2 linked regions of the Homo sapiens genome follow. The protein of the gene in region 1 purifies or fractionates together with the protein of each later gene. This does not show direct contact. Each region holds a gene or a part of one and is shown in the gene's direction. Other genes may lie near its edges.

Region 1 (7,966 bases):
TCGGCCGCCCTGCCCAGCTGCCTGCCCCCGGAGGTGCCCACGCAGCTGCCTGGACAAGTCAGTGCACTCCCCTTTCCTTCCTGCCTGGGGGACGCATGCCGGGCGTGATGCCACAGATCTGGGATTGCGTGCGTGTGTGTTTGCAAGAATACGTGCGTGGGTGCGTGTGGGTGCGCGTGCGTATGTTGTAGGTGTCTGTGCACGTGTGTTGTGGGGGCATGTGCACACACTCACGTGTTGAGGGAGAACATAGGAAGCACCCTCCGAAGTTAAGATCCTGGGGGCTTTCCTTGCTGGTGACAACCGTGACTGCGTTCGCCTCCTTTCTGAGGATGGGGTCTTTACAGGGCAGAAGCAGGCAGTGCAGAAGGAAGAGTGAGATGTCCAAGACCCGTTCACGTTCGTGAATGGTTATTTCTAAAACAAAGAAAGTGGCTACTTTCTCACATAAATAACATGGTTATCCCAGCAGGTAGTAAAAAACCTAACAAACAAGGCCAGGCGCGGTGGCTCACGCCTGTAATCCCAGCGCTTTGGGAGGCCGAGGTGGGCGGATCACCTGAGGACAAGAGTTCCAGACCAGCCTGGCCAACATGGCGAAACCCTGTCTTTACTAAAAATACAGAAATTAGCCAGGTGTGGAGGCGGGCGCCTGTAATCCCAGCTTCTCAGGAGGCTGAGGCAGGAGAATTGCTTGAACCCAGGAGGCGGAGGTTGCAGTGAGCCGAGATGGTGCCACTGCACTCCAGCCTGGGTGACAGAGGGAGACTCCGTCTCAAAAAAAAAAAGCAAAAAACCCCAACCCGATTTCACTTATTTCATTAATTTTGAAGGTTACAGGCCTGGAAGATTTTGGTTGTCAGACATTAAGATTTGTTTTCAGAAAACTGTTTGTTTTCAGAAAACTGGTCTTTTCCTTTACAGCCTGGAACCCTTGCAAATATGTGAGATGTAGGAATTTCTGTGCTTAAATTCAGGTACCACCCAAGGGTCTGCCCTACCTCCACCCTCCAGGCCTGCCCCCACAAATCAGCCCAGTGCAGCTTCCGGTCAGGTTTGTTGATGAGCCGGATGCTGGTGCTGGCTCTGAGCATCCTTTTCAGCCTGCCACCTCTTCCCGCCTTTTCCGAGACTTCCTTAGACCTCATGATGTCTGGAATGTGACCTGGGAGATGCTGCAGCCTCCACAGGTCACTTAACCTCTCCAGGCCTCAGTTTTTTCATCCAGGCAATGGGGGAATAATGGCAGTGCAGAAGTCAGATCAGATGAGGGGATTCATGCCCTGCATCAGGCCCAGTGTCGGGCATGTGGTGGGGACGCGTAGACACGGTGAGGTGGCTGTGATTAGCGGAAGCCTGGAGGCCTGGCTTTGGTGGTAGCTCCACACTAACATGAGTGCAGCAATTTAATTGCCCAGGTTCCTTCCCCTCCCAGGCCCTCAGTCTCCTTAGCTTTGCACATGATAGGAGCAGGACTGGGAGAGCTCTCATACATATTCCCTTGCAGGTCTCAGATCTGAGGGTTTTTATGAAAAGCCAGCAGAACTGAAATGGTGTCCCTGTGGCATCCGTTCTGATGGAAATGTGCAGTTGTATTTGGAAGTTCAGAGGCCGCTGCTTTGATGCTTGGGGGGACCAGGCTGGGGAAGGGGGTTGATATCCTGAGCTGCACAGACCTCCGTCGTGGAGGACGCAGTGGCAGGGGCTGCATCCTCCTGTCCGCTTCAGAGCTGCCCCTGGCGTTGGGAGGACAGTCCTTCAGGGTGGCCAGGTTCTTAGGGACGTCTGAAGCTGCTGGCTGGGCCGGCGTGGGGTTTTTCAGGGCTTCGTCCCTGCAGATTGCGCCCTGCCTCCTGACTGACTTCTCTCTCTGCTTCTCCTCCGCAGCCTTTGCTAGGGCAAGCCTGTCTGTAAGTATCTCTCCGATCATCGCTGCTGCTTGCACTGCTTTCTTCCTGCTTGCTCATTTGGCCTCCTGCCTGTTAAAATATTGAGGATGAGAGCAGTTTTGTGATGTGAGGTCTTCCGTGGGGGAAGGAGGAGATGGGCGTAGGAGTAGGGAGGAGAGATTCCTGAATGTTTTTGGAAAAGCGTGCAGGCGGTCATGGTGGCTGCACTACTGTTGGGTGTGTTCCGACACCGCCGCACGACCGCTGGCTTCTCCCCTACCCTCTCAGGGCTGCAGGTCGTGGTGTGTAATGGCCGTGGTTTAGGGCTCGGCATAAATCCACATTTCCTTATCAGAATCAGATCTTGGTGGCGAGCTGCATCTGTGCCAGGTGCCATTAGCCTTAAAGCCCCCTCCTGCCCCAGGAGTGTCCTTTGTTTTGGAAGGAAAACTTACTCAGAGCCTAATCTGTAAACCAAACCTATGGGGAATAGTGGGAGTGTGGTGGGGCCTGAGCTCTGAGCCTCTCCCTCCCCATGAGGACCCCCCACACCCCAAAAGAGCTCCGAGTGGAGACCCTTGGGGATCCGTTTGTCCTGGGTTGGAGCCTGCTCAGCGTCATAGTCACGCCCGGGGCTGGGTGCAGCCTCCATCTCTAACCCATGTGGTCACTTCTGCTCCTCCCAGAGCTCTCTGCAGAGTTTCAGGTTCAGCCTTAGCTCTGGCAGCCACTGGGTAGCTGGGGCTGTGTTCCCACTGCTCTGGGATCCCTTCCCCACCAGGAGCAGAGGCCTTCCTGCCACAGAACTTTAATGACAGCCACATGAAGTGTCATCCCCTTGCCCCCCCAAAAACACACCCGCCCCTTTATTTCCTGTTTGCTCCTTAAGTTACCTTAACTACTTTATGCAGAAACTGGAAAGGTGTGATGAGGAATGCAGCCTGAGATGCTGAAAAGAATGACTGGCTTTGGAAATGGGAGAGGTTTGGCATGGCGCTCAGATTTTGGTGGCAAAGGGGTGAAGGGCCAGAGGATGTACCAGTGTCCTCCATGTCCACGTTCCTTAAGACCACCCTGGGAGGTCGGCAGGGCAGTCAGTCCCCCGTTTAATGGTTGAGGGGCTGAGTGACCGGCCCGTGCTTCCAGCAGGTGAGCCGCAGAGCCGGGGCCTGAAAGGCCCCTTGCTTCAGAAAGCCGGCCGCCTCCTCTCTGCGGCTTCTGGGAGTGGGCTGGGTGCCCGTTCCCTGCTGCTGTCCTGAGGCCCCTGCCCTGTGACCCGCAAGGCATGGGCAGCTGTTGGACCCTCGTGTACCCCCACAGCCACCCCCTTGCAGCTGCTTCCCACAGCCAGGCTTTGCTTACCTAAGGTGGGCCTGCCCTTAACTTCCAGCTTCTTGGGGCGCACCCTCCATCCTCAGGGCCAGTGTCTGTGATGCGCGGGGCCAGCGTGCAGTGCTTCAGGATCTGGGCTTCTCCTTGTGTGAAACTTTTTGGACTTGGAGCCTGAAGGTTTTACATCTGTGCATGTCCTGATCCTTTAGACCAGCAGTCCCCGACCTTTTTGGTACCAGGGACCCGTTTCGTGGAAGAGAATTTTCCCCACCATGGCAGGGTAGGGGATGGTTTGGGGATAAAACTGTTCTGCCTCAGATCGTCTGGCATTAGATTCTCTGAAGGGAACGCACAGCCTAGATCCCTCGTGTGTGCTCCTCCGAGTCAGGTGGTAATGTTGGCCCACCCACCACCCACCTCCTGCTGTGTGGCCCGCCTCTCAGTGGGCTATGGACTGGGTACTGGTCCACAGCCCAGGGGTTAGGGACCCCTGCGTTAGACACGTGGCCTCATGTTGCCAGGAAAGAAATCTTTCTACTGGGAGGAGCCATTCGGGGATAGTCCCCCACCCGCTAAAGCTGATCTTACCTATCTCCAAGATGAACATAATAGTGCGTTTGCTAGAATCCCTCCTGTTCAGCAAAAATACATCCGATGGACCCATCACACCTGACTCAGGTTGGAATTTCACTCTGGAGTCCCATTGTCCCGTCCATCCTGGGTGCGTGACCCCACATCTAGGATTGTAGCCACATCTGATTCTAGGAGTCCACCTGGGCTCTGTGACCAGAATTTATGATGAAAGTCAGACCAAGCCAGGCCTGCATCTTGGTTCTACTCCTCCTGGCCTCTATCCTTGGCACTCTGGGCAAGTTAAAGCAATTCTAGGACCTCAGCTTCCTCATCTGTAATATGGAGATAATAACTTCATAAAGTTGTCATAATGAGACTATAGATACAGCACTTAGCACAATATCTGGCCCCTAGGAAGTGCGTGGGGGATGACGGCTGCTGTTGTTATCAGGGAGGAACTTGGTGCCCTGGGCCTGTGGAGACTTCTGGGCTTGCTGGCATTGGGTCAGCCTTTGGATACCCTCCTGTAACCTGAGGGATTTCTTCTCTGGGGCAGCAGGAACACCCAGACTTGGGGAGGGGAAATCCCTGGGGTCTCAAGGCCATGGCCTGAAGTCTTTTTTTTTTTTTGAGATGGAATTCTGCTCTTGTTGCCCAGGCTGGAGTGCAGTGGCGCGATCTTGGCTCACTGCAACCTCCTTCTCCCGGGTTCAAGCGATTCTCCTGCCTCAACCTCCCGAGTAGCTGGGATTACAGGCGCCCGCCACCATGCCCGGCTAATGTTTGTATTTTTAGTAGAGATGGGGTTTCACCATGTTGGCCAGGCTCGTCTCAAACTCCTGACCTCAGGTGATCCACCCGCCTTGGCCTCCCAAAGTGCTGGGATTACAGATGTGAGCCACCACGCCCAGCCTAGAGTCTTCACCCCTGTGATCTTGGTTTCCCAGTAAGATGGGGACGAACAACTGTCCGGACCTGGTGCTCTGGGGTGCCTTCCTGGGGGCTGTGCCGGCTGCTTGGGATCGAGAGATCACCTGGCATTTGTGATGCAACCTTCATTTTTAAAATTTCAAATGCACACTAGAAAATCCTACTAAAGATTTTCTTTTTTTTTTTCCTTTTCCAACCTGTTTCTTCCTCTCCCCCACTCTGCTTGAAAGACGAACTGTCTGTCACATTTTCTCAAAGTTTTCTCCTTACTAACTGTGGAAGGTAAATGCCTGGGTGCATGTCCCTCTGTCCCGCACCGCGTCACGGCATCTGGGTCTGTGTGCAGACTGGCCATCGTGCAATGCGGGGCTCATCTGTCTCCATGCCGAGGTTGTTAAGTGCAACACCATTGTCGTGAGGTCCTTTCTAGTCTGTCTCTCACCCCCCACGTGTCCTGAGCTGGGGCCCCTGGGTGAAGGACGTGGACATCACCCGGTCTTGCAGGCTCTCCACTGTTATTGTTGCATCGCCATCACCTGTGGGTGCCGGAAGCTGTGGGCTGGTGGTGTTGAGGACAGGTTGGAGCCAGCAGATGCGGAGGGAAATGTCAGCCCTGCTCTGTGATCCCACAGCCCGGCTGGGGCTCTCCCTAGATATGAGGACCCAGGGCTCTCTGAAGAGAATTGCCCCCTCCCAGTGGGCACCCATCACTTCCATCATCCTTCGGCGGGCACCCATCAACCCCCGCAGGCAGCCGTCATCCCCTGGCAGGCACCTATCACCTCCTGGTGGGCACTCATCACCTCCCGGTGGGCACCCATCACCTCCTGGCGGGCACCCATCACCTCTCGGCGGGCACCCATCACCTCCCGGTGGGCACCCATCACCTGGGTTCCTGAGTCTGGCCCACGCCTGGGCGATAGCTCTGATGCTGCCCAGCCCCGTGACTTTCCTCCCTGTGGATGGCTCCAGCCTTGGACCCCCAGTTCTGTGTGGGGTGGGCATGGGCCACGGTGGCCCTGTGTGCCTGGGCTCTCTCCCACCCTCTTTAGAGCAGTCCAGGTGGAGACACTCAGGACTGGAGAGAATAGTTTTAAACATTGTGTGTTTTCTTGTTTTTTGAGGCGTAGGTGAAGCAGGTCACGGAAGGAGGCCCGCTGTGCAGTGGCTGCAGTCAGTTGTGTTCCTCGCTGATTTTGGAGCATGTTTTTTTGCGGGGGGTGGGTGGCGGGGGGGTTTGGTACTGGCCAGTGCCTTAGGGGTGGAACTCCCTGCGAGGGCCACTGTGATCAGAAGTGGGGCAGGGCTTTAACAACACCCCTCTGCCTGGCTCCCCACCTGGGCCTCCCCACCACGTCCAGCCATTCCATGTATCACCTGTGTTCTGCCTGTCAAGCTCTGTTCCCAGAATCTGGATGCAGGAGCTGGGAGTGTGGCTCTGTTTTGAGCTGAGTCGAGAGGAGGGGCCCTGTGTGTCCTTGGAGGCCCCGGGCTCATCCTCTGCCTGGCTGTGGTTTGTGGGATTTCTATGGGGTCGTGAGCATGAGGCTCCTGTAGTTACTGGTGCCCAGCGCCGCGCAGCTCACGGTCCTCCAGGAGCCACACGGCCCCCACCAGGCGGGCTCCAGGCCTGGTGCCCAGCCCCTTCTCTGAGACTCTGGGGTTATCTTGCGTCATGTTCTGAGGCCCACCTGGGCTCTCTCCCGCCTGTGAGGTTGGCAGCACCTTTCTTGGATCATGTTCTTTGTCTGGGATGGAGGGAGGGAAGAATTCTCCGTTGCATGGCTCGCGTCTTCTGCTTTAGAATTCAGCCAGCTACAAATCCTAACTCCCTCCCCACCTCTCTTTTCTCCTGAAAACAGAACATGAAAGGCTCCCGGAGCAGCGCTGACTCCTCCAGGAAACACTGAGGCAGACGTGTCGGTTCCATTCCATTTCCATTTCTGCAGCTTAGCTTGTGTCCTGCCCTCCGCCCGAGGCAAAACGTATCCTGAGGACTTCTTCCGGAGAGGGTGGGGTGGAGCAGCGGGGGAGCCTTGGCCGAAGAGAACCATGCTTGGCACCGTCTGTGTCCCCTCGGCCGCTGGACACCAGAAAGCCACGTGGGTCCCTGGCGCCCTGCCTTTAGCCGTGGGGCCCCCACCTCCACTCTCTGGGTTTCCTAGGAATGTCCAGCCTCGGAGACCTTCACAAAGCCTTGGGAGGGTGATGAGTGCTGGTCCTGACAGGAGGCCGCTGGGGACACTGTGCTGTTTTGTTTCGTTTCTGTGATCTCCCGGCACGTTTGGAGCTGGGAAGACCACACTGGTGGCAGAATCCTAAAATTAAAGGAGGCAGGCTCCTAGTTGCTGAAAGTTAAGGAATGTGTAAAACCTCCACGTGACTGTTTGGTGCATCTTGACCTGGGAAGACGCCTCATGGGAACGAACTTGGACAGGTGTTGGGTTGAGGCCTCTTCTGCAGGAAGTCCCTGAGCTGAGACGCAAGTTGGCTGGGTGGTCCGCACCCTGGCTCTCCTGCAGGTCCACACACCTTCCAGGCCTGTGGCCTGCCTCCAAAGATGTGCAAGGGCAGGCTGGCTGCACGGGGAGAGGGAAGTATTTTGCCGAAATATGAGAACTGGGGCCTCCTGCTCCCAGGGAGCTCCAGGGCCCCTCTCTCCTCCCACCTGGACTTGGGGGGAACTGAGAAACACTTTCCTGGAGCTGCTGGCTTTTGCACTTTTTTGATGGCAGAAGTGTGACCTGAGAGTCCCACCTTCTCTTCAGGAACGTAGATGTTGGGGTGTCTTGCCCTGGGGGGCTTGGAACCTCTGAAGGTGGGGAGCGGAACACCTGGCATCCTTCCCCAGCACTTGCATTACCGTCCCTGCTCTTCCCAGGTGGGGACAGTGGCCCAAGCAAGGCCTCACTCGCAGCCACTTCTTCAAGAGCTGCCTGCACACTGTCTTGGAGCATCTGCCTTGTGCCTGGCACTCTGCCGGTGCCTTGGGAAGGTCGGAAGAGTGGACTTTGTCCTGGCCTTCCCTTCATGGCGTCTATGACACTTTTGTGGTGATGGAAAGCATGGGACCTGTCGTCTCAGCCTGTTGGTTTCTCCTCATTGCCTCAAACCCTGGGGTAGGTGGGACGGGGGGTCTCGTGCCCAGATGAAACCATTTGGAAACTCGGCAGCAGAGTTTGTCCAAATGACCCTTTTCAGGATGTCTCAAAGCTTGTGCCAAAGGTCACTTTTCTTTCCTG
Region 2 (6,844 bases), on another chromosome or scaffold:
AGGGAGTCGAGCTCTCCGGCCTCTCAGCCGCCATCAGCCACTTCCTGAACTGCTTCCTGAGCTCCTACCCAAACCCCGTGGCCCACCTGCCCGCCGACGAGCTGGTCTCCAAGAAGCGGAATAAGAGGAGGAAAAACCGGCCCCCGGGGGCTGCAGATAACACAGCCTGGGCTGTCATGACCCCCCAGGAGCTCTGGAAGAACATCTGCCAGGAGGCCAAGAACTACTTTGACTTCGACCTCGAGTGGTGCGTGCGGGGCAGGGGCGGTGGGGTGGGTGGGATTGGGCAGATGAGGCGGCCACCACCTGCTCCCAGATGGCGTCTAAGGCCTGTGGTCATAGGCCAGGGAGTCAGAGAGAAGAGGGAGCAGCTGTGGAGATCACTGGGTGCTGGAGGGTGAGGGCAGCCGGGAGGCTCCCGGGGGCCGGGTGGGGCAGTGTTGGGGGCCCGGGCTGGACAGCGTTGGGGAGCTGGGTGGGGCGGTGTTGGGGGGGCCCGGCGGTGCTTGGGCTGCTCAGGCCCCCTGCTCCCTCCTCAGTGAGACCGTGGACCAGGCTGTGGAGACCTACGGCCTGCAGAAGATAACGCTCCTGCGGGAGATCTCGCTGAAAACAGGGATCCAGGTGGGCATGGCTCACAGCATCCCCGCTGTGTCCCCGCTGTGTCCCCGCTGCGTCCCTGCTGCAGGCTCCCACTCCTGGCCAGGGCCACAGGGGAAGTGGCTTTTTCACGGTAGCCGTCTGTGCGCAAGCGTTGGTGGGTTGGGAGGTGCCAACCCGCTGAACCTGGGCCTGAGGCTTCCTGTGGTGGGGGGGCTGCCCCCCAGGTCCTGCTGAAGGAGTACAGCTTCGACAGTCGCCACAAGCCCGCGTTCACCGAGGAGGACGTGCTCAACATCTTCCCCGTGGTCAAGCACGTCAACCCCAAGGCCTCGGATGCCTTCCATTTCTTCCAGAGCGGGCAGGCCAAAGTGCAGCAGGGTGTGTGGCCAGGTGGGGCTGGGTGGAGGTGGGGGTTCCCCATGGCCCGTCCTGACCTTGCCACCCCTGGGGGTGCCCTGCAGGCTTCCTGAAGGAGGGCTGTGAGCTCATCAATGAGGCCCTGAACCTGTTTAACAACGTCTACGGAGCCATGCACGTGGAGACCTGCGCCTGCCTGCGCCTCCTCGCCCGCCTCCACTACATCATGGGCGACTACGCAGAGGTACCCTCTGGGCTGTGGCAGCAAAGGCCTGGCCTCGTGTTGGGGGATGGGGAGTGAGGGGGCCCCTGACGGAGGAGTGGGTGGAGTCCAGGGAGACCCCAGGAAGTCGCTGGTTCTGCCCAGGCCACCCCTGGCTCCACCCCTCTGTAACTGTGTCCCGAGCGGGAGAGCTCAGGAGCACCCTGTGCTGCGGTGAGGTCAGTTCTGGGAGGCGATGGCAGGGGACCCCCCCACAGGGCGTCAGCAAGGACGCCTCCTGAGACTCCGTGAGTGGGCAGGAAGCATGCCACCGAGCTCCCACGTCCTCTGTGCCCAGTGCAGGCTGTGGGGTTCTGGGTGCCCTGCCTGGCCGGGGCTGGTGGAGGCTGTGGTGGGGTTCTGGGTGCCCTGCCTGGCCAGGGCTGTTTCAGGGTTAGCATGTCTTAGGATCCCTACTCCCTGCAAAGGGACTGTTTTTTCTTCTGTTTATAAATGGGTGGGTTGTTTGTTTGTTTGTTTGTTTCTGAGACAGGGTCTTGCTTTGTCACCCAGGCTGGAGTGTAGTGGCGTGATATCGACTCCCTGCAGCCTCAACCTCCTGGGCTCAAGCGATTCTCCCACCTCAGCCTCCCGAGTAGCTGGGATTACAGGCGTGAGCCAGCACACCCAGCTAATTTTTGTATTTTTAGTAGAGATGGGGTTTCATCATGTTGGCCAGGATGGTCTCAAACTCCTGACCTCAAGGGACCCACCCCTGCTCAGGCTTTTTTTTTTTTTTTGTAACATTTTTAGTAGTTTTAGGTTTGTATTTGGGTGTTTGTGGAGATTTTGTTGGGTGTAAGACATGGGTGTGTGGAGCTCTCTGTGGAGCGTGACCTGCCCTTCAAGGTGTGGCAGCAGCTGCTGCTGATCCCCCTCCCCCCTGCTGCACTGTGCTGGGCGCAGCCGGAGGGGACAGGAGCCTGCAGAGCGGCACCGTGGGCTGCTGGGCCGGGGCCAGGCGGGCTCTGGGTGCAGTGGGGGTTCCCACGCCGCGGCAACCACCACTGTCTCTCCCCAGGCCCTGAGTAACCAGCAGAAGGCGGTGCTGATGAGCGAGCGGGTGATGGGCACCGAGCACCCCAACACCATCCAGGAATACGTGAGTCGCGAGTGCCGCCCGCGCCGGGGGATGCGAGGGGCTGGGTCCGCGGCCACCCTGACCTGTCTCCGCCCCGCCCGCAGATGCACCTGGCCCTGTACTGCTTCGCCAGCAGCCAGCTGTCCACCGCCCTGAGCCTGCTGTACCGCGCCCGCTACCTCATGCTGCTGGTGTTCGGGGAAGACCACCCCGAGATGGCGCTGCTGGACGTGAGTGCTGGGGCGGGGGGGCGGCAGGGACCCAGCTCCATCCCAGGGGACCGGGAGCTGACCAGGGCCCCCCACCGCCTGCCCCCAGAACAACATCGGGCTGGTGCTGCACGGGGTGATGGAGTACGACCTGTCGCTGCGCTTCCTGGAGAACGCGCTGGCCGTCAGCACCAAGTACCACGGGCCCAAGGCCCTCAAGGTGGCCCTCAGGTGAGGGGCCGCCCGTCCAAACGCCAAGGCCGGCGGAGGCCTGCGGGGCAGCCGGCGGGGGCGGGGAAGAGACCCAGTGCTCCTGTCTTCCTCCACCCGAGAAAATTTCTCTCGACCTCCCCCTCTTCCCTGAGCCCTGGACTTGCTGTTCCCCTCGGTGGCTTCCAGGGAGGGATCTACGGGAGACCCCGGGCCCCCGAGTCAGGCCCCCACACCCAGCCCACTTATGCCCTTCCCTCGCCCCGCGCCGCGCCTCCCGGCAGCCACCACCTTGTCGCCCGAGTCTACGAGAGCAAAGCTGAGTTCCGGTCGGCCCTGCAGCACGAGAAGGAGGGTTACACCATCTACAAGACGCAGGTGCGCGGCGGGGGCGTGGCGGGGGCGGGGGCGGGGCGGGGGCGTGGCGGGGCGGGGGCGGGGCCGCGGGGGCACGGGGGGGCCTGATCCCTTCCCGCCTCCCCGCAGCTGGGCGAGGACCATGAGAAGACCAAGGAAAGCTCCGAGTACCTCAAGTGCCTGACCCAGCAGGCCGTGGCCCTGCAGCGCACCATGAACGAGATCTACCGCAACGGCTCCAGCGCCAACATCCCGCCCCTCAAGGTGAGTCCGGGGCGGAGCGGCCCCTCCGGCCCGGCGAGCGCGGGAGCCCCGCTCACCGCTGGTTTCCCCGCCCCGCAGTTCACGGCCCCCAGCATGGCCAGCGTCTTGGAGCAGCTGAACGTCATTAACGGCATCCTCTTCATTCCTCTCAGGTGAGGCCTCCGCCCCACTCGAGTGTCTCCCGGTTGGGGGTTTTTTGTGAGTCGGAGTCTCGCCCTGTCACCCGGGCTGGAGTGCGGCGGCGCCATCCCGGCTCACTGCAGCCTCCGCCTCCCGGGTTCAGCGATTCTCCTGCCTCAGCCTCCCCAGTAGCTGGGATTACAGGTGTCCGCCACCTCGCCCGGCTCATTTTTGTGTTTGTAGTAGAGATGGGGTTTCACCACGTTGACCAGGCTGGTCTCGAACTCTTAACCTTGCGATCCGCCCGCCTCGGCCTCTCAGAGTGCTGGGATTCCAGGCGTGAGCCATCGCGCCCGGCCCGCCCCGCTTATCTTCCCCAGCATCCTCGCATTCCGCGAGTGAAGACCTTGGTGTTTCTGCTTCACACAAAGTATCTTGGCGTTTTCCCACCAGTCCCTAAGAAGCGGCTTCATTCCCTCCCCACGCTTCCCATCCTGCGGCGGGGGGGGGCTGAGGAGCAGGCCCCGGGCTCCCCGGGGTGGCCACAAGCAGTGTGGCCTCCTGTGGGGAGTGGATTTGGTCAGCAAGGCGTGGCAGCAGCCCCCCAACTCCGCTTTCCTCCCCCTGCGCTGGAGGGAGGCCACCGAGGGCAGCGAGGGGAGCCCCGAGGCCGGGTCAGGTGCGGGGTCCTTACCTTCTCCGTGTTCAGGGACCTTCCGCCTTCAGGAGGGAAGCGCTTGTTCACACACATTCCCCACTGAATAGAGCGCAGAGCCTGAGCTTATCCCACAGGAAAGCCGGGAGGCGGGTGGAGCCCCCAGGACTCCTCTGAGAGCCACCTCCATCCCCACCCTTATCCTCAGCCAAAAAGACCTGGAGAATCTGAAAGCCGAGGTGGCGCGGCGGCACCAGCTCCAGGAGGCCAGCAGAAACAGGGATAGAGCCGAGGAGCCCATGGCTACCGAGCCCGCGCCAGCGGGGGCCCCAGGAGACCTGGGCTCCCAGCCCCCGGCTGCCAAGGACCCTTCTCCGAGCGTGCAGGGATAGAGAGGGAGCCAGACGGACAGCCAGCCAGCGGCCCCGTCACCAGGGAGCCCGACTGCGGGAGAAGGGGGCGAGCCTGCGGGCGGAAGAGGAAGCAAGGCCCTCTTCCTCCACGTCTCACCCCACCCCACCCCCGTGTCCTCCTGGGAGCCTGGCCTGCCTGCCCCGCAGAAGGTGTTTTTGCGCTGGTTCAATGAATAGATGATGCAGAGGCCCCATTGGAGACACGTGAATGGCGTGTGCGGCCATCAGTTCCCGGCTGGGGGGCAGGTGTTGCTTCGGCCCCCGCCGTCCGGCCGGCGTGTGCGAGTGCGCCCCTGGCTGTGAGTGTTGACCGTTCCTCTCCCCTGTACATAGCCCGAGCCAGTCCTGAGTGGGTGACTCCTGAGTGGGTGACGCGCAGACGGGATTTCTCAGGTCATTTGTATGGTCGACATGATGGCTGCTGCTTTGGCTGCCACCACCCCCGGGCCCAGCCTGTCTGAAAGTTCAGGGTTTAGGCCGAAAAACCCGGTGGGGAGGGGTGGGGAGCCGGAGCTCTGTGGCGGGGCTGGAGGGCTGGGGTGCACTTTAGTTTGGGGCGGGACGGGAGCCGCCGTTGTGACTGGCGTGGTCTGGCTGCTGCTCCCGAACGGAGGGGTCGGGGTTGGCTTGCTGGGCCCTCAGAGCCCAGTGGGTGGCTCTGACTCGGCTCCCTACTCCCTGCACCCAGCTGGGCGCAGCCTTGGGGCCTGCGGTCTGAATGTATCCCTCCCCTCAGTTTTAACCTGAGCTGCCGAACGCACAGTGGGCCGGGGGCGAGGCTGGGGGAAGCGGGGCCCAATTACGGATCCCGGGAGTTACAGGTGCCGACGTGATGTCGCTTCTCTGGTGCCCAGCTCCCTTCCTGGTCTGAGACTAGCTCTGGGGGTGGCGGGGGCCCCCACACGCTGCTCCCGCTCCACCCTGCCCGTGCTGCTGCTCTGTGCCTGCTGTCAGAGCCCTGGTGGGGGAGGATGTGGCCACCCTGAGACCCGGAGGAGACGGGCGTCTGCCTGGGTTTGCGGAGAGCCGCTTATGGGTGTGGTCCGTCCAGACACCTTGTTTCAAGGGGGATGGGCGTGAGCGGGCAAGCAGAGCATCCCCACCGCTGAGCAAGAACTTTTTCTTGTTTTTAAACCATCACGTCCTCATTTCACATTGGAATAAAGTGAGTTTTTGAAACCTGCGGCCCCAGGCTCACCTGTGTGTTCTGTAACCCGGTCTGGGTGGATGGTGAGGGCTGACAGGAATGTGACTGGGAGAGGAATAGATACAAACGAGGTCAAGTTCGAGGTCACGCTTACATTGTCACTTGAGTGGGAGGTAAGGGGGTGGAATCACAGGCACTCAGCTGGAATTCACCGAGCTGCCAGTCCGTCACCAGGTTCGCGGGAGTGTCGTGCAGGTGAATGTCACCTGTCACCAGGTGCAGAAGAAACTGTGAAGGCCAGGTGGGGAGGGGTGCTGGGCTGTGGGGCCAGGCCCTGTGCATGCTGGACCCGTGAGGTCACTGAACACCCCCCTGGCTGGCCACCTGCCCCTGTCTCTTCACTCGAGGTAGGAAGGAGGGTGGGCAGCACTGCCCAGAGGTGAGACACTGGGGGCAGGGAGGAGGGCCTCAAGTTCGCCACCCTCGGACAGGATTCAGAGAGCCAAGACCCAGGTGGACTTGAGCGGCAGAGCCTGTCTCTAGAGGGGAAGTTGAGCTCTCAGTAGCTGCTGACCGCTGCTCGCCATCTGTCTCCAAGAGCAGGCCCTCGGCCCCACCAGGAACATACGCCTTTTGGGATGCTTGGAGAGATCTGTACGTCTTGGAAATTCTGAAAAGAAAAAAATTCCATCCCTGAGTCTGTCAGTTTTCCTGAGCCAACCGGAGAAAAGGTGCTTCTGACCTGGCGGTTTTAGGTGACACCCGGGGACAGCCACCAGCGAGTGAGTGTCCTGCTACAGAACCTCTCAGACTTCCCAGCAGCCCCAGCCCAGCAGCAGCTTCCTTTGCTCTCACCGGTGTGTCCTGAACATTCTGTCCCCTCTCCTGAGTGTTTGTTGTTGAACGTGAGCCACATGTTCATGCACCTCTCAAAACAGGGCCTCCTGTGAAGCTGAGAACAGATCGGGGTTGGTTAGGGTTGTGCCTCCTTGTCACCTGAGAGGCCCCTATTTCCTGGCTGATCCTTTAAGCGTATTAGTGCCCTCAGACATCTTTTGACGACCCAAATGACAAGGGGCTGTTTTCATAAAGCAAATGGAGGCCCTAGGTGTGAAATCCACTCTTTCTCCTTCCCTTCTTTTAGGTGACAGGTTTCAACTTTTTAA

What was found.
Region 2: the proteins of PFKFB3 (region 1) and CLUH purify together in Homo sapiens (affinity purification with mass spectrometry; 2 studies listed by BioGRID and IntAct, with this or other methods). This does not show direct contact.

What each region holds. Positions count from the first base shown.
Region 1 is NC_000010.11:6,226,309-6,234,274, forward strand, and holds part of PFKFB3 (6-phosphofructo-2-kinase/fructose-2,6-bisphosphatase 3), read left to right. Parts: coding exon 1-57; intron 58-1,887; coding exon of another isoform or gene 1,888-1,910; intron 1,911-6,586; coding exon 6,587-6,634; 3' UTR 6,635-7,966. UniProt on the Homo sapiens protein: Catalyzes both the synthesis and degradation of fructose 2,6-bisphosphate.
Region 2 is NC_000017.11:2,688,260-2,695,103, reverse strand, and holds the end of CLUH (clustered mitochondria protein homolog), read left to right. Parts: intron 1-2; coding exon 3-247; intron 248-539; coding exon 540-624; intron 625-827; coding exon 828-981; intron 982-1,064; coding exon 1,065-1,204; intron 1,205-2,184; exon of another isoform or gene 2,185-2,243; coding exon 2,244-2,324; intron 2,325-2,407; coding exon 2,408-2,533; intron 2,534-2,621; coding exon 2,622-2,743; intron 2,744-3,006; coding exon 3,007-3,100; intron 3,101-3,208; coding exon 3,209-3,343; intron 3,344-3,421; coding exon 3,422-3,495; intron 3,496-4,326; coding exon 4,327-4,510; 3' UTR 4,511-5,717; downstream 5,718-6,844. UniProt on the Homo sapiens protein: mRNA-binding protein involved in proper cytoplasmic distribution of mitochondria.